Linked DNA regions of Homo sapiens. The protein of the gene in region 2 interacts with the protein of the main gene of each other region in a pairwise test. Each region holds a gene or a part of one and is shown on either strand. Other genes may lie near its edges.

The links.
Region 1: the proteins of PLEKHA5 (region 2) and CCDC186 interact in a two-hybrid assay, tested with the Homo sapiens proteins (one large-scale study listed by BioGRID and IntAct).
Region 3: the proteins of PLEKHA5 (region 2) and ARHGEF9 interact in a two-hybrid assay, tested with the Homo sapiens proteins (one large-scale study listed by BioGRID and IntAct).
Region 4: the proteins of PLEKHA5 (region 2) and CCDC92 interact in a two-hybrid assay, tested with the Homo sapiens proteins (one large-scale study listed by BioGRID and IntAct).

What each region holds. Positions count from the first base shown.
Region 1 is NC_000010.11:114,129,204-114,132,703, forward strand, and holds part of CCDC186 (coiled-coil domain-containing protein 186), read right to left. Parts: intron 3,316-3,500; coding exon of another isoform or gene 3,189-3,315; exon of another isoform or gene 2,982-3,188; coding exon 2,726-2,981; intron 2,134-2,725; coding exon 1,944-2,133; intron 1,467-1,943; exon of another isoform or gene 769-1,466; coding exon 688-768; intron 1-687.
Region 2 is NC_000012.12:19,132,733-19,136,232, reverse strand, and holds part of PLEKHA5 (pleckstrin homology domain-containing family A member 5), read right to left. Parts: intron 1-3,500.
Region 3 is NC_000023.11:63,782,415-63,786,536, forward strand, and holds the start of ARHGEF9 (rho guanine nucleotide exchange factor 9), read right to left. Parts: upstream 2,801-4,122; 5' UTR 2,732-2,800; coding exon 2,702-2,731; intron 1-2,701. UniProt on the Homo sapiens protein: Acts as a guanine nucleotide exchange factor (GEF) for CDC42. Promotes formation of GPHN clusters.
Region 4 is NC_000012.12:123,935,126-123,938,478, forward strand, and holds the end of CCDC92 (coiled-coil domain-containing protein 92), read right to left. Parts: intron 2,706-3,353; coding exon 1,933-2,705; 3' UTR 501-1,932; downstream 1-500. Other genes in the region: DNAH10 (dynein axonemal heavy chain 10), read left to right, coding at 210-356.

The sequences.
Region 1 (3,500 bases), on a different chromosome or scaffold from region 2:
ATAGTTCCGGTTACTTGAGAGGCTGAGGTGGGAAGATTGTGATTGAGGCTGCAGGGAGCCAAAGTCACACCACTGCACTCCAGCCTGGGTGACTGAGTTAAGACCTGTCTCAAAAAAAAAAAGAAAGAAAAAGAAAACACAACGAATAAAAAAGAAGGTAGGGAGACAGATCATCACATAGAACCCCATGACAAATCTGAAACCCCAGGTCATGAGTAGAACTTAAATATTTAACCAGAAACATTTTTTACAATATAATTATATATAACCACAATTTTTCATACTTCAAAATGAAACAAAGCATATCAATACTTTTTAAAATAAAAAATGCTATTTATTTATTTATTTTTTGAGACAGAGTCTTGCTCTGTTGCCCAGGCTGGAGTGCAGTGATGCGATCTCAGCTCACTGCAACTTCCACCTCCAAGTGATTCTCGTGCCTCAGCCTCCCGAGTAGCTGGGATTGCAGGCGTGAGCTACCACACTCAGCTGATTTTTGTATTTTTAGTAGAGACGGGGTTTCTCCATGTTGGCCAGACTGGTCTTGAACTTCTGACCTCAGGTGATCCACTCATCTCGTCCTCCCAAAGTGCTGGGATTACAGGTGTGAGCCATCACACCTGGCCAAAAATGCTATTTATTTTTATATCAATCATGAAATAACAACTAGAGCCACTAGTTTTTTACCTGATGAACTAGAACGACTTCCCATGCTGCTGACTTCTTTGTCATAGCTTCCACTCTCAACCTGATCTAATTTTCTTCGTGCTATAGGAAAAAGAAGATTATTCGTCACAATTATCAGGACCATTTGCTCCTACCATCTCTGACTTTAATTGCTAAAATCACTGAGGCAAAAATGGCATAGACAAGAGAAAGTTCTTGAATACATACTTTAGGCAGAGGGCTATGTCATTCATATAAAATGTCATTTGGAAATGTAAAAGTCAAGTACAAAATATACAGAAACAACATTATAACTGACACTGGCATCACTTAATTACAGTGGAGTTAACTTTTTAAAGTATTGAAAGATTTAGAAGTTCCTTACAGTACCAGAAATTTCTTCCAAATTTCCCTTCAATTACATCTATAAAAACAAACTAAACTCTATGGCAAATATCTGAATATATTTGTATTAAGTAAATGCTAAGTCCCTTTTAGCTTATTACTATATTTCACCCTATTTTAACACAAATAAAGCCGTGAGAAATAGTAGAGAATAGGAGGTTGAAATACGTGTCTTATTTATTTTTGTATCCCAAGCATATAGCACAGACACCCAATGACTGTATGACTTTTTAAAAGAAAGAAATCTGGAATCCAGTTCAGCAGTCAATTGTTATGTCTGGGTAATTTATAACTTTCTGGGGTCTGTTTCTTGAAACCCAGGTGAAGAGTTAAGTCGCAACGATTTCCAAGTCAGAGGACGCATCTCGGGTATCTGCACCCTAGATGCCGGTAGCCTAGATGCAGCACAAAAGAAATCACAGGAATGTAAAAGAAGATATCAGAACTGCTATTTATACTGATATTTAAAAATAGATTATTTTAAATTTCTATTTTTCATATGTTCTAATATATATAAAAGACTAACACATGTTTAAAATGTATAAATAAACATATCTAAATTGGATAACAAATGCCTAAGCACTTTTTATTGACAGGAGTATGTGATCAAAAGTTTAGATACTAATGCCCTAACATTGCTTTCCCAATTCTCATGTTTTGTGATTCTGTGAGTAAATGTCCTTTAGCATACAAGATATCCTTTAGGATAAAAGATCGGTCATGAAATTCCAAGAAGTTTAACAATTTGGTTTACTAATATTAACAAAGAAAACATACAGCTTCAATCAATGTGGCAGAATCACAAAAAATAAAATCCTAATGATTAAAAGAAACAAACACATTCATGGTCTAAGTGTGGAAGAATTTTATACCTTGCTGAAGTTGTTTGGTGAGATCCTTGATACTAGAGGCATGTTTACGTCTCTGAGTTACTAACTCATCTTTTAATTCTTCTACCTGGGTACTCAATGCTTTAACTTCTGTTTGTCTACAAGCGAGTTCAGCTTGCAGAGTTTGGACTTCCTCTTTTCGCAGTTCTTCCTCTTTCAACAACCTACTTTCCTGAATAGTAAGTAAAACAAAAACCACCAATTTTAGTATGTTTGTTTCCATTAATGCTCAGTTTATATAACCTTAACAATCTAAGGTTCTTGACAGTGGAGATTCTTCTATTATTATTCCTTATCAGCTTTTGTTTACTTGAGCTTCTCACAGTTCTCATATAGAAAAGCAGGGGGATACATTAAGGAGAATGTCATTCTATACATACCAAGCAACATGTGATACAGGTTGTTGAATTTTTGGACTAAAGTCTCAAATCATTTTTATGAGTAACTTGAAGACACTCTCATAAATTATAAAAATAGAAATTTAAAGTACCTTTTAAAAATATACAGTGATTCTAGTCAGGAAGGACACAAACCAGTTTTCTCATTTTCAAAAGTAAAATATTATTCATAATCATTTTAGGAAGAAATTTTATTATAAATTATAACAGTTGAGGAAAAACTGACATTTCTTACAGCAGTTGAAATTGTCAGAAAGTCAGTGTCCAGGAAAGAACTTAATTCAACTACTATTACTTTTATACTGTTAGGGAAATTTAATTTGTGCTTGTTACGTTGTTTTAAAAAAAATGTAAATTTATACTTACCAAATTAATATTTGTCTGTTTCATTTGTTCACACTGGCTTTGTAACTGACTTTCACTACAGGAAACTTTATCAAATTGTGACTGCAAAGAATTGGATTCAGACTGAAGCTGTGCATTCTTACTAGTGAGCCTTTCTGTAAACAGCAGCAGCTCAGATTCTCTTTTCCTACTGCCTTCGATGTCTTTTTGTAGGTCATTAATCAAAGAATTAAGACTTTCCACTTCTTCTTTCAAATTTTCAATTTCTTGCTTACCTCTAAAACACAAAATTTATATTTAAGAAAAAATAAACCATTAAAAGACATTAAATTAATGGTTTGGGAATTTTCATCTAGTCAAATGCTTAATAAAGGTACTTCTATTCATTCATCCAAATATTTATAAATGCCTAATATATGCCAGGAAATAAGAGCTGGAAAGAAAAGTGAGCAAGACCAACATGGCCTCTGCTTTCAAAGAGCTTTTAGTCAAGTGTGGAAATTATATGTGTAAAAAAACATTTTTTATGATAAAAGCACAGAGTGGGTTTGCCTAAACTAGTGTAAGTGATGCTCAAACTAATACTTGAAGCAGGAGTCAGCAACCTTTTCCTGTAAAAGATCAGATAGTAAATAAGTTAGGCTTCTGGGTCATATGGTTTTGCTGCAATTGTTCCACTCTGCCATTGTACTATGAAAACTGCCACAGATATTACATGAATGAGTGTGGATGTGTTCCAAAAAAACTTCACTTACTAAAAGAGGTAGTGGGCTGGATTTGTTTTGTAAGCCATGGT
Region 2 (3,500 bases):
AATTATTCAGAAAAAAAGTATTAAATATCTTTAAAGATAAAGATTTTTGGCCAGGCACCATGGCTCATGCCTATAATCCCCCATTTTCGGGGACCAAGGCAGGAGGATTGCGTGAGCCTAGGAGTTCAAGATCAGGCTGGGCAACATAGGAAGACCCTGTCTCTCTCAATCAATCAATCAATCAAATTAGCCAGGCATGGTGGTACACACTTGTGGTCCCAGCTACTCGTAAGGCTGAGGTGGGAGGATCGCTTAAGCCCAGGAGGTCAAGGCTGCAGTGTGTTGTGATAGAGCCACTGCACTCCAGCCTGGGTGACACAGTGAAACCCCCCTCAAAAAAAAAAAAAAAAACAAAGTAAGATTTTTCATATTTTACTGTTTTTTGGCCAAATGGATGTGAAGGAAAATACATTCTCTATATTACATATTTTTTTAATCTAGCTGCAAACTTGTATTAAAGAACCAATTTCAAAGTGTATAAAATAAACTGATTAACTCAAACCTATACAACTCTTACGCTGATCAGGTCCTTTGTTTACATTAGCAGTACTATCTGTTTACATGAAGATATGTATACAAACATTTTACAAGGAAACGTAAGCACAAAAAGCAGCAAAAGAAAGTACACACAACCCTGGCACTACATACATCATACTTATCTGTGATTGTCTATCCAAAGCTTAAAGAGGGAGGATAAAATAGTTAAGAAGGATAGAAAAGCTAGCTTTCCATATTTCCCGCATCATCTCTGCTTGGCATTGTGAGTTCCTTGTTTTCCAGAATATTATAAATCCCAGAACAGTACAAAATTCAAAGAAATTTAGAAATGGAATTTAGAGGTTGCCTTTTCCAGGTAACCTAATTTAAAGACGTGAAGACTGAGCTCCAAAGTCATTAAGGTCAAGACCACATTTCAGTTCCTATGACTTCCCCACTACAATCCTCTCCTCTTACCACCTACAGAGATGCAAGTGTCAATACCAAAATATAATTAAGAGATAAATTCTTTCTGGTAACCTGCCATTTTTAACACCAACCAACATTTGTCCAGGAGAGGAATAATTTAAGAGTTATATATATTTCACTTCACAATGGAAGCAGAAACAACTGAAATTCTTTAGGTCTCCCTTCTTGCAGTGAGAACTTTCCAGAACACAGGATTAGGAATAGTCAAAGGGCTGACATGTCTTTTATTGGCATTCCTATCTTTCCACTTCCCATGTGAACAAAATCCACCCCGATAACCCTGTAACCTCCTTTACATACAATTTGATCAATAACCACCTTTCTTCATCTGAGAAAGAAATGACAATGAAAAACTATAGCCACCAACACGAATCACTTTCCTACTTCAGACTCCTATCTTTTCCTCCACTCTGAATATTCTAAATATAGTTTATGTTCCTGGGGTTTCTCATCCTGCTGTCTTTGCAAACTGTAAGTTCCAAAGGCATGTTTCTGCTGTTTTATTATGTGTGTGACAATGGGAGTAGTAACTCTGACTACTTCATGAATGAATAATGTATGTGAAGGTACTCTAAATTGTAAAGTTTAAGATAAAAGTAGTGCCCCTATCCTATTAGAATGATAAATAACAATACAAACAAGTAAAAAGTTTCTAGGAAATTACAGTGCACATTAGGGATTTAACTAACCTTAAAAGAAATTAGTCTTCTGACATTACCCAGAAGATAAAGCAGTAGCACCTAACATTCAGTACATCATATATTTATCAATGGTTAGTTTTTTTAAAAGTTTAATGAGTGATATGCAACACTATGCTCAATTTTAGGAGAAATTACTTCCATAATATTATAAGTTATTTATTGCTACTTTTGGACACAATTACTGGCTATGAATACCAAAATGATTAAAACCTACAAGTTTAAAAATGTCTTTAAAGTAAAATTATTATAGCTTTCTTAATATTGTCTTAATTTTCCAGAGAAACCTACTTAGGCATTAGACATGGCACTCAAATAAAATTCTAATTTGTTTAAGTAAACATAAAAGAAAACCTAATCAAAATGGCTCGTAAAACAAAAGAAACTCACTCAATGTCTTCCTAACAGCTTAGTTCTAAATTAAAACATACATACTCAGCCCACACAGAATAAGATTTTGTACTATCAAATAAACATTCATCCAAGAATGCACGCAAAGAAATTAAAATGTTATTGAAAATTGAAATGTTACCTCTGTTTTTATAAGATGAGCTAGGCTTAATGTACAGTAGTCAAAATTACATTGAATAAATGACCTGAAATGAAAAAACTGTTTTTCTTCACATATACCATACTACTAGCTTGACAAGAAAAGAAGTATCCCTTTTCGTGGCAATATCAACTCACTTTAATTTAGGATGGAAATAACCAATAGAAAAACATTTGATGACTGCATTTCACTCAAGTATTTTTTTAGGCCATCTAATAATGTATAGTATAATCTCCAAAGAAAAGATTTCACCCAAAAATATTCACAGAAAGACCATACCATGAAACTATTCCATTCCTGTATCTTCTGCTTTCTCTATTTCTACATCCAAAAGCAAGCATTCCTAATACTTATAAAAAAGCCCTTGACGTTTTATCTAAGTATCTTTCTAAAAGATTAAAGAACCATACAGGTAATTATAATTTACTGGAAGTATAACATGATCTTAAAAATGTCACAGTAAAAATAACTTTCTAGGCTCAATGAAATAAAGGTAACTTTAGCTAGGTATCTGTTATTGTTTATAAACTACTGAAGTCTTAACCCAGTTTGGCATTTCAGCATTCTCTTTCATGTCTCAGTTTATTAAAATTAAAGAACAAATAAGGTTAAACAATAAAAACAAACTCTTAGGTAAATAGTTTCTAATATAAAAATAAAAAGACAAAACCACCCATATTTTTCGTTGGGGGATTAAAATTTTTCCTACATGATGTTGACCTCCAGCTTTGTATTTGTCTCCAAGTAGTACTAAGTTATTAAGTTTGAACATAAATTAGTTTAATATTCTAAAGAACTGGTTTTAAGATTGGGACTGACTGGTCATCTTTTCTCTCAAGCTCTACTAAAAGCCTTTTTTAAACAAACATATCAATAAAACATCTTGACTTAGACATATTTAAATAAACTGAGGCAAAAATACAAACAATGCTCCAATATATGCTCATGAAATATTCAGTAACTATTTCTATTTTTACTCCCTGACCGTCATTGTTTATCAAATTGTGCCTAGCTTTACATCACTTTTGCTACCTATAAACAGCCCTGGTCAAAATATACATGAACAAGGTTCACTAAAAAAAAAAAAAAAAAAAAGATGTTCACGTAACTCAGATTTTTTTTTGTTTGTTATCTCTCAGCACAGATAATCAAAGATCAAAACTTTAAGTACCACATAGCTAATGACCAATAATCCTCTATTACCCAGGAATATACACAGAAGCACCAAAAAAAAAAAAAAAAAAAGGTAATTGTGGTCATATTCTGATGAAGCTGGACGATTCCAA
Region 3 (4,122 bases), on a different chromosome or scaffold from region 2:
TTTAGGCATACTGGCTAACCCAGCACAAACTGGCATTGCAGAAAGAAGCCAAGAATAAATAACAATTTACCGTCCAGTGTGAACTCACAGTTTAGCATCCTGTATCTATGAGACAGATTTTATTCTGTAAAATCTTGAACAATGTTTTATGTTCAAGGCCCACGATTTACATGTAACACTTGAAATAAGTTACTACAGTCAAATGTACTAAAAAGAAATCTCACTGTTATAAAAAGCTCAGTTTGTACTTCGGGCACCTTGCAAACGAAAGAACAAGGAGCAAAGATCTTTCAGCTAGCCACGTTATAAAATGGTGGCTAGATACACAATCCCTATTTGTTCGTAATGAGCCACTAGTTAAATTTTATCCAACACATACTTCTAGGAATCTGAGAATCTAAGGCCTAGAAGGAATTTTGGTGCTTATTAACATCCGCATTTAATAGGTAAGAAATCTGAGGCCCAAAGGATTTCTGTTAGTGGCAAGGCCAAAACTTAGAGGTTCCCTGCCTCTCAGGCAAGAATAGAGTTTACTACTCCCATCTCTTGAATTCTGGTAAACAGCTAAATAAATGCTTTCATCATATAATATTCATTGTCTCAGTCCTCTAAGAATATTATGAGATTTTTCCCCATCAACCAATCCTTAATTACACAGTCTCCACAAGATGTCTGCCACCCTTTTCTCTCTCATACACTGTTGGCAAAACTTCAAATTTCTTCATTAATTTAACCTGTTGTCAATGAGTGGCTCTGGGCCCCTATACTTCAATATATTTGGGAGAGGAAGTAAGTCTCACCCTGACCCAGTTCCCAGTTGCCAGAAATGCCAGGACTGGCATGGATTTTTTTCGGGTAATTTTTTTTTTTTTTTTTTGAGATGGAGTTTCGCTCTTGTTGCTCAGGCTGGACTGCAACGGCACAATCTCGGCTCACCGCAACCTCCCCCTCCTGGGTTCGAGTGATTCTCCTGCCTCAGCCTCAGGCATGTGCCACTACGTCCAGCTAATTTTGTCTTTTTAGTAGAGACGGGGTTTCTCCACGTTGGTCAGGCTGTTCTTGAGCTCCCGACCTCAGATGATCCACCCGCCTCGGCCTCCCAAAGTGCTGGGATTACAGGCGTGGGCGGCCGCGCCCGGCTTTCAGGTAAATTTAATGGCACTAGATCATCCTGAAGAAAGTCCTTTCCCAAGATCATGACTATGTTCCTTTCTTCCCCTCTCAGCACCATTTGAGCAAATGATTGGTGGAGCAGTGGGGAAGGACTGTGGCAGTCAGGAGACTCAAGTGCTAGACTCAGCTTTGCCTCCAAGGAGTTTGTGGTCCTGGGCAAGTCTCTCCCACTCTCTGGATCCCAGCTTTCCTGGCTGGACAGCAAGGACTCTAAGGTCTTTACCTGCTCTAATCTTTTCTGGTTCTACAAACATTTGATGCAGCTTTAATGGGACCTCAGGGAAGTAGGGAGGTCTGGGAAGAAGGGTCTTTTGAAGCCCCAGCACATAGGCATATGAACCGGATGCCCTTAAGAACCACTGAAACAGAGATCTAACAAAACTCTGAGGAAGGGAAGAGGACAGCCCCTCTGAATATAGTCCTAGCCCACACCAGATTCCCTCTTCCCCTCCACAATGAAAGCAAAAATGGAGTTAAATATCAGTTTTTGCCCAACCACTTCAGGCTACTTTCCTTCATCTGCGGGTTATGGGTGGCAGCGTAGAAGTGTGGGCTATTGCCATCAGTGCCTGCTGACCCAACCTAACTGCCTTCTAAGGCCCTTTTGCTTATGCCTCCCAGCTGAGGACAAAGTCATGGGGGCCTCCCACTCCCCAGAGGCCCTAACCAGGCTTAAGCTGCTCCTGGCTAAGTCAGAGAGGCATCAAAATGCAGCCACCACTTCCTCTCTGCAAAAGGAAGTCATTCCAAGGTCTCCAGGTGGAGAAGGGAACACCATGGCATAAAATGAACTGTTGGAGGATTATACTAAACACACACACAAGCACACACTCCTTGGGAGGGAGAGAAGAGCTCTGTTAACTGACTGTGGCCCAAGCCCATTTCCAGAATGTGGGTTTCTGCAGCTGTCTCTCCTTGACAAAGCCCCAAGTGTGGACAGGGTGACCCCAGCCCGGACAAGGAAGGGCTTTAGGGCTCCCTCAGGCAGCTTCCTGAGAGAGAGAGAGTGGCTCTCTGGCCCTCATGCTCTGGGGCTGACCAGGGAAAGGAGTTGCAGAAAATCTAGTTGGGGGCAGGGGGGAGTCATGCAGCTCTCCCATAAGGCCCCCTCCACAATTCCAGGCTTTGTGACCGTCCCCTCCCCCCACAACCCCGTGCCAGCTTGTCAGCCTCCTGCGAGCTTCACTGCTTCCAGAGAAGCCCTCTGCCATCCCCCTTCCCTCTCTGGCCTCCCAAGTGACCCCTGGGATGTTCCTGGGCACATAATCTGGCCCCCACCCCTATTCCACCTTAATCTCAGAGGGAGATAGAAAAGTGGAGGGGGATGGTAGGGGGGTTTCCTGGGCAGGCAGGCTAGCAGGGACTCCTAAAATGGCCACAGCAAGCTCACTGGTGTCTCAAGGACGGCGGCTAGGGCGGTGGGCAGAGGCCAGGGTGCTCACTGCCTTGTGGCTCGTTGGAGGAACTGGAGGTGGGGCTGGGGGACTGAGAGGCTCAAGCAAGGGAAGCCAAGGTTACATGCACTCACCATTCCCGATCCGCCCCTTATCCACTGCATGGTGCTTGCGAAGTCCGGCTTCTCTGAGGCCCCGTAGCTGGCGCGAGTTGTCGCGGGCTGACTAGAAGGGCTGGGCTGAAGCAAGCGAGAGCCCCAGCGCCCCCTCCGCCGCCCCTCCTCCACAGCCCTACAACCCAATCCCCTCCGCCCCGGACCTCGCCTTCAGTCAGTTTGTTCCATGCCAACCGGCAGGCTCTGTCTCTCCGCCCTGCTGCTCCTAGAGGTCTTGGCAGGGAGAGGTGCGAGTGTGGGGGGGTCCTAATGGGCTGCTTTTGTCCCCCACCAAGGCTTGAGAACTGTGGGGGTGGGGTGCAGGGAGAGGATGGGGGCGAATAGCCTCCGCCCGCCCAGGAGAAGGCAGCTGCTACCTCTGCCTGCCTCCCGCTGCGCTGGAGTTAGATGCTGTTTATTGTGGGGCTTCCCAATTGTGTCGAGTCAGCGGAAAGTCCTTTCCAAAGTTACCAGAGGTGTTGTGCCAATCTCCAGAATAATAAGATCCTGCCCCAGTGGAGCCAAGCCAGCACTCTCATGCCTCCCTCCCCCACCCTCCCTCTGCATACTCCCCTAGGGTCTTCTCTCTTTGTGTACTATCTGAGAGCTTTCATCTGCATTACTTTCACTTCTCAGAACAACCCTGTAGAGGCAGCCATTAGTATCTCCAAGTTATAGATAAATAAATGGAGGTTTGGAAGAGGGAAGGGGCATAAGGTCACATTAAAGAAAAAAAAAAGATAAATCCTCGACTTTACCCTCTGCGGCTTTCCAAGCCTCTTTCGGCTATCTCTCCCTTTCTATCTCACACACACCACTCCAGGCTTCTCCTTCATGCCCTTAGGAACATGAAAGGTAGCTTGTTGATGGACGAATTTTCCATTTGCTTATTTTGCTGAGAATGAGTTGAATGCACATCAGCGAAACAGGCAAACGGAGAAACCACCCACCTCTTTATGATTCCCCCAACTCTGGGGAACACAACACAGGCTGGTACCTTTGCTTAGGCTAAAAATTGACTTTGTCAGTCACACTAACATCTGTTATTATCCCTTATAATCCTCACAGTAACTCTATGAGATGGACACAACAAGGATTCTTAATTGCCCACCATTACAGACTTGAACACTGAAGCCCAGAGATTGAAAGACTTCTGCTTAAAGTAGCACAGCCAAACAAGACAAGAATCCAAGGCTCCTGACTAGAAGAGCAGGTCAGGCAAAGACAGAATTGCAAAAACAGAGGTTGCAACCAAAGTAAAAGGAGTTACAGTATGATATTAGAAAGAAGTTCCTGGAGATAATTGACATGAAGACATCACTGGCCTGTTACACGTACTTTATTTGTCCTCTTCTTTTTAGCACAACTTCTGCACTTCATCCAACCTGTTGTTTTGTCCA
Region 4 (3,353 bases), about 100 Mb from region 2:
CAGGACCCACTTTTAACCAGGGTGTCAGTGTGAAGCCAGGTCCCCGTGAAGCTGGCGGAGGGTGGCCCTGAGCAGCCCCAGCCTTGTGCGTGTTCTCAGGTGCAGTCTTGCACAGGGGCCCCTGCCTGTCAAGACTTACACTGCACCTCTGCCTTTATCCCTCTGCACCCTCTCTCCGTGGGGGCATCTCACCTGCCTTTCCCTTGCAGAATACTTTCCGGACCCCCGTCTACACCACCTCCATGAGAAGGAACGCCATGGGAGTCGGCTTGGTTTTTGAAGCTGATCTCTTTACCACGAGGCACATTTCTCACTGGGTGCTGCAAGGAGTATGCCTCACCCTGAATTCTGATTAACCTTTGGGTGAAGAAAACTGCTTAATGAATTCGGAGCCTGGGGTTGTCAGAGTGATCGGGTCTGCTGTCATTTCTTGGGGCCTCTCAAGAGGCAGGAGGGGGACTGACACTGATTTTTCATTTGAAATCAGCCACTTAAATCTCTTTCCATACAAATTAACCTGAATGGTTTTGTTTTTAATACTACTTTTTAAAAGGAATTTATATAATCAAAAAGTAAATATTGGAGAGTATTTTAAGATGTGTGGAGTTTTCTTTTCCTTCTCAGAGAAAACACTTGATTAGGCAAAAGTGCCTGGCATACATAGCATTGGCACAAGTGAGAATCCTAATGTAATTTCCAAAGGTGTGTTTTCGATGATCCAGGTCTGTTTCAGCAGATGCTCCTTTTTGGCAAGAAGGGCTGATGATGTCGGGCACAGAGCAGAAGTGACCAGTCACCTGGAGCCACTTCTCCCCCTTCCAGAACTCTCTGGCCCTAGCTTCTTTGGCTCTGACCTGCTACGGCGACTGTGAAGTTGTTGAGCTTAGTGTTTAGTTCCTGCATGAGCTTCTACCCCCAGCCTGCCTGGGTCTGTGTGGGGTCAGGTAAGGACACAGAACCTCCAGGACCAGTGGTCACTGGGCACCCCTTCCCTCTGTGCACCATGAGGCTGGCCTGGAGCCCTGGCTGGCCACCTGGAGGTGAGGGGTGGCTTCACTCCATGAGGGAGGAGAGGGGCTAGCACGGGCAGCACAGTGGGCAGGGGCCATCAGAGGCAAAAGCAGCTTCCCACAGAAGCTCAGGAGCGCAGCACATTCTAAGGACTAGCTCTGGGCCGGGAGGAGGCCGGAGTCGCTTCTGGGACCTGTGATTGCTCTCCCTCCTGCAGTCTCCTAGCCCTCCTTCAGGTGTTTGTTTAATAAAAGACACAAAACAGAAGGAAGGCAGGTTTAGAAAATAAAGTTTGTTGGGATCTTAAACATTTTGGATAAAACTAACAAAAAAATATGAACACACATTCAGGTTGTGGTGCTATGAGGAGTAGCGTCATCTTATTTAGTTCCTTGAGATACACGCACGGCTGCTCGGTGATCGGTGCCGCCCTGGGAAAGGTTGGTCAGGAGGTGACAGGGGTCTCCAGGAGGAGCTCGGGAGGTGACAAGGGTCTCCAGGAGGGAGCAGGGGCTGCTCGGCCAGGCTGCCCTGGAGCTTGAGGATAAGGTCAAGGTTGGTATGTGTTGCTCCGACTTGAGAATGAATTAGGTGTGTGACTGTGTGGCATCGTGAACATCAGTAGTGACGCAGCCGTGGCCTGGGCTTTGCCTGCAGCGCACTTAGGTTACACGGAGCGGGATCAGAAGCAAGCGATTCGGCACACAGGCGTTTGGCCACAGCAATTAGGAAATACATATTCTGCGGCAGGGACACGATCATATTTTGGTGTGAAGAAGAGGGCAAGAGAAGCAGAAGGAGAATGGGTCGGTAGGTGTGAAAAGTGTTTGGCATGCATGGGATTAAACAGAAAAGGTGTGGCTGAGATTTCCCAGTGGTGCTCACAGTGCATGGACAGCGCGGGGTGGGGCACGGCGGGCTTCACACAGTTCTGTCCGTCCCTGAGTGCTTCCTCACCACCTTGCCTCCGTTCACCTGGTCGACCGCCAGGGTCTTCACCTCGGGCTGGGCCTGCGGCGGGGTGGCGTGGTGGATCCGATGTGCCACCCCGACGTGGGCCTTGTGCGGCTTTTCGCGGGCCGGGCTGTGCTGCTCGCCGCTTCGGTCGGAGGCGATGGGGGGGATGACGAGGGGCCTCTCTTTGATGAGGTGGACCTCGGCGGACTCCCTAGCCAGCAGAAATGGGGTGGGGTCGGGCATAGCATCCACTGGTTCCCGCAAAAGGAGTTTCCTGCTCTCTGCCCCGAATCTGTAGACCTCTTCAAATTCCGGGTGCAAGGGGGCTGAGAGGCTCTTTTTCATGCGGCGGCGAGGCGTTTCGGGTAGCTTGTCTTTGGGGGGCGCTGGCTTGTAGCTGGCCAGCACGGGGCTCCCTGACGGGCTGGCATCTGAGGTCCCGCTGGAGCTCATGAGCTTCTTCTTGGCGGCGTGCAGCTGGGAGGTCAGGTAGGCGATGGTGCTGGCCCGCTGCTCCAGCTCGCTAGACAGCAGGGTCAGCTTGTGACTCTTGGCCTTCAGCTCCTCCAGGTACTTCTTCTCTCGCTCCTTGATGGTGTTCTCCAGCACTGTGATCATCGCGTTTTTCTGCTCCAGTTCTTTCAACAACTCAGCATTTTCGTTCTCTTTCACTTTCAGTTGGGCTTCCAGCTCTTCACATCTTTTCTTTAATTCACTGCTTTTAGAAGTCCCGTCTCCTACAAGAATAAGCCGAGGAAGCAGGTGAAGAACTCATTAGACTGAGGCCGAGTGGTGAGGCCTATGGGGCAGGCGGACCTGTCTGGTGGGGGCCCTGTCTAGGCTGTGGGGGCCATGCAGAAGGCAGGGCTGTGGGGGCTCTGGAAAGACCCCTCCCCTCCCCGAGGTGGGGAGATCGGGGCATCTCAGAGGCCCTTTCCGGCTCTTAGTTCTCTGGCCTACTGCATAAAAGAATGTCTCTGAACCTTAAAGATGCTGAACTTAAAACAGGCAATTGCAGAGTATCAGACCTCAGCAAACACTTAGGATTCAACTGGCCGCAAATCCCTCTGTCTGCTCAGATGGCATTTATGGAATGCCTGCTACATTCAAAGTACTGTTTTGAAACTCAAATGTAAAAAGAATTATCCATGTCTATTGAATTAAAATTCTGATGTTTAGAGGAGAAGAGGTGTGGGGCTGTCACCTTTGCTCTGCCGCTGGCCGCCTCTCTCACCCCCCTACCCCCGTCTCTCTCACACACACACACACACAGACTCTTTCCCACTTCCTGCTCAGAGAGTGAGCTGTCTCGCCTCTGTGGCTCTTACCCTTGGTCCCTCCCTGCCCCTGCCCTAACACTTCGGGCCTCTGCCTCCTTTTGCTGT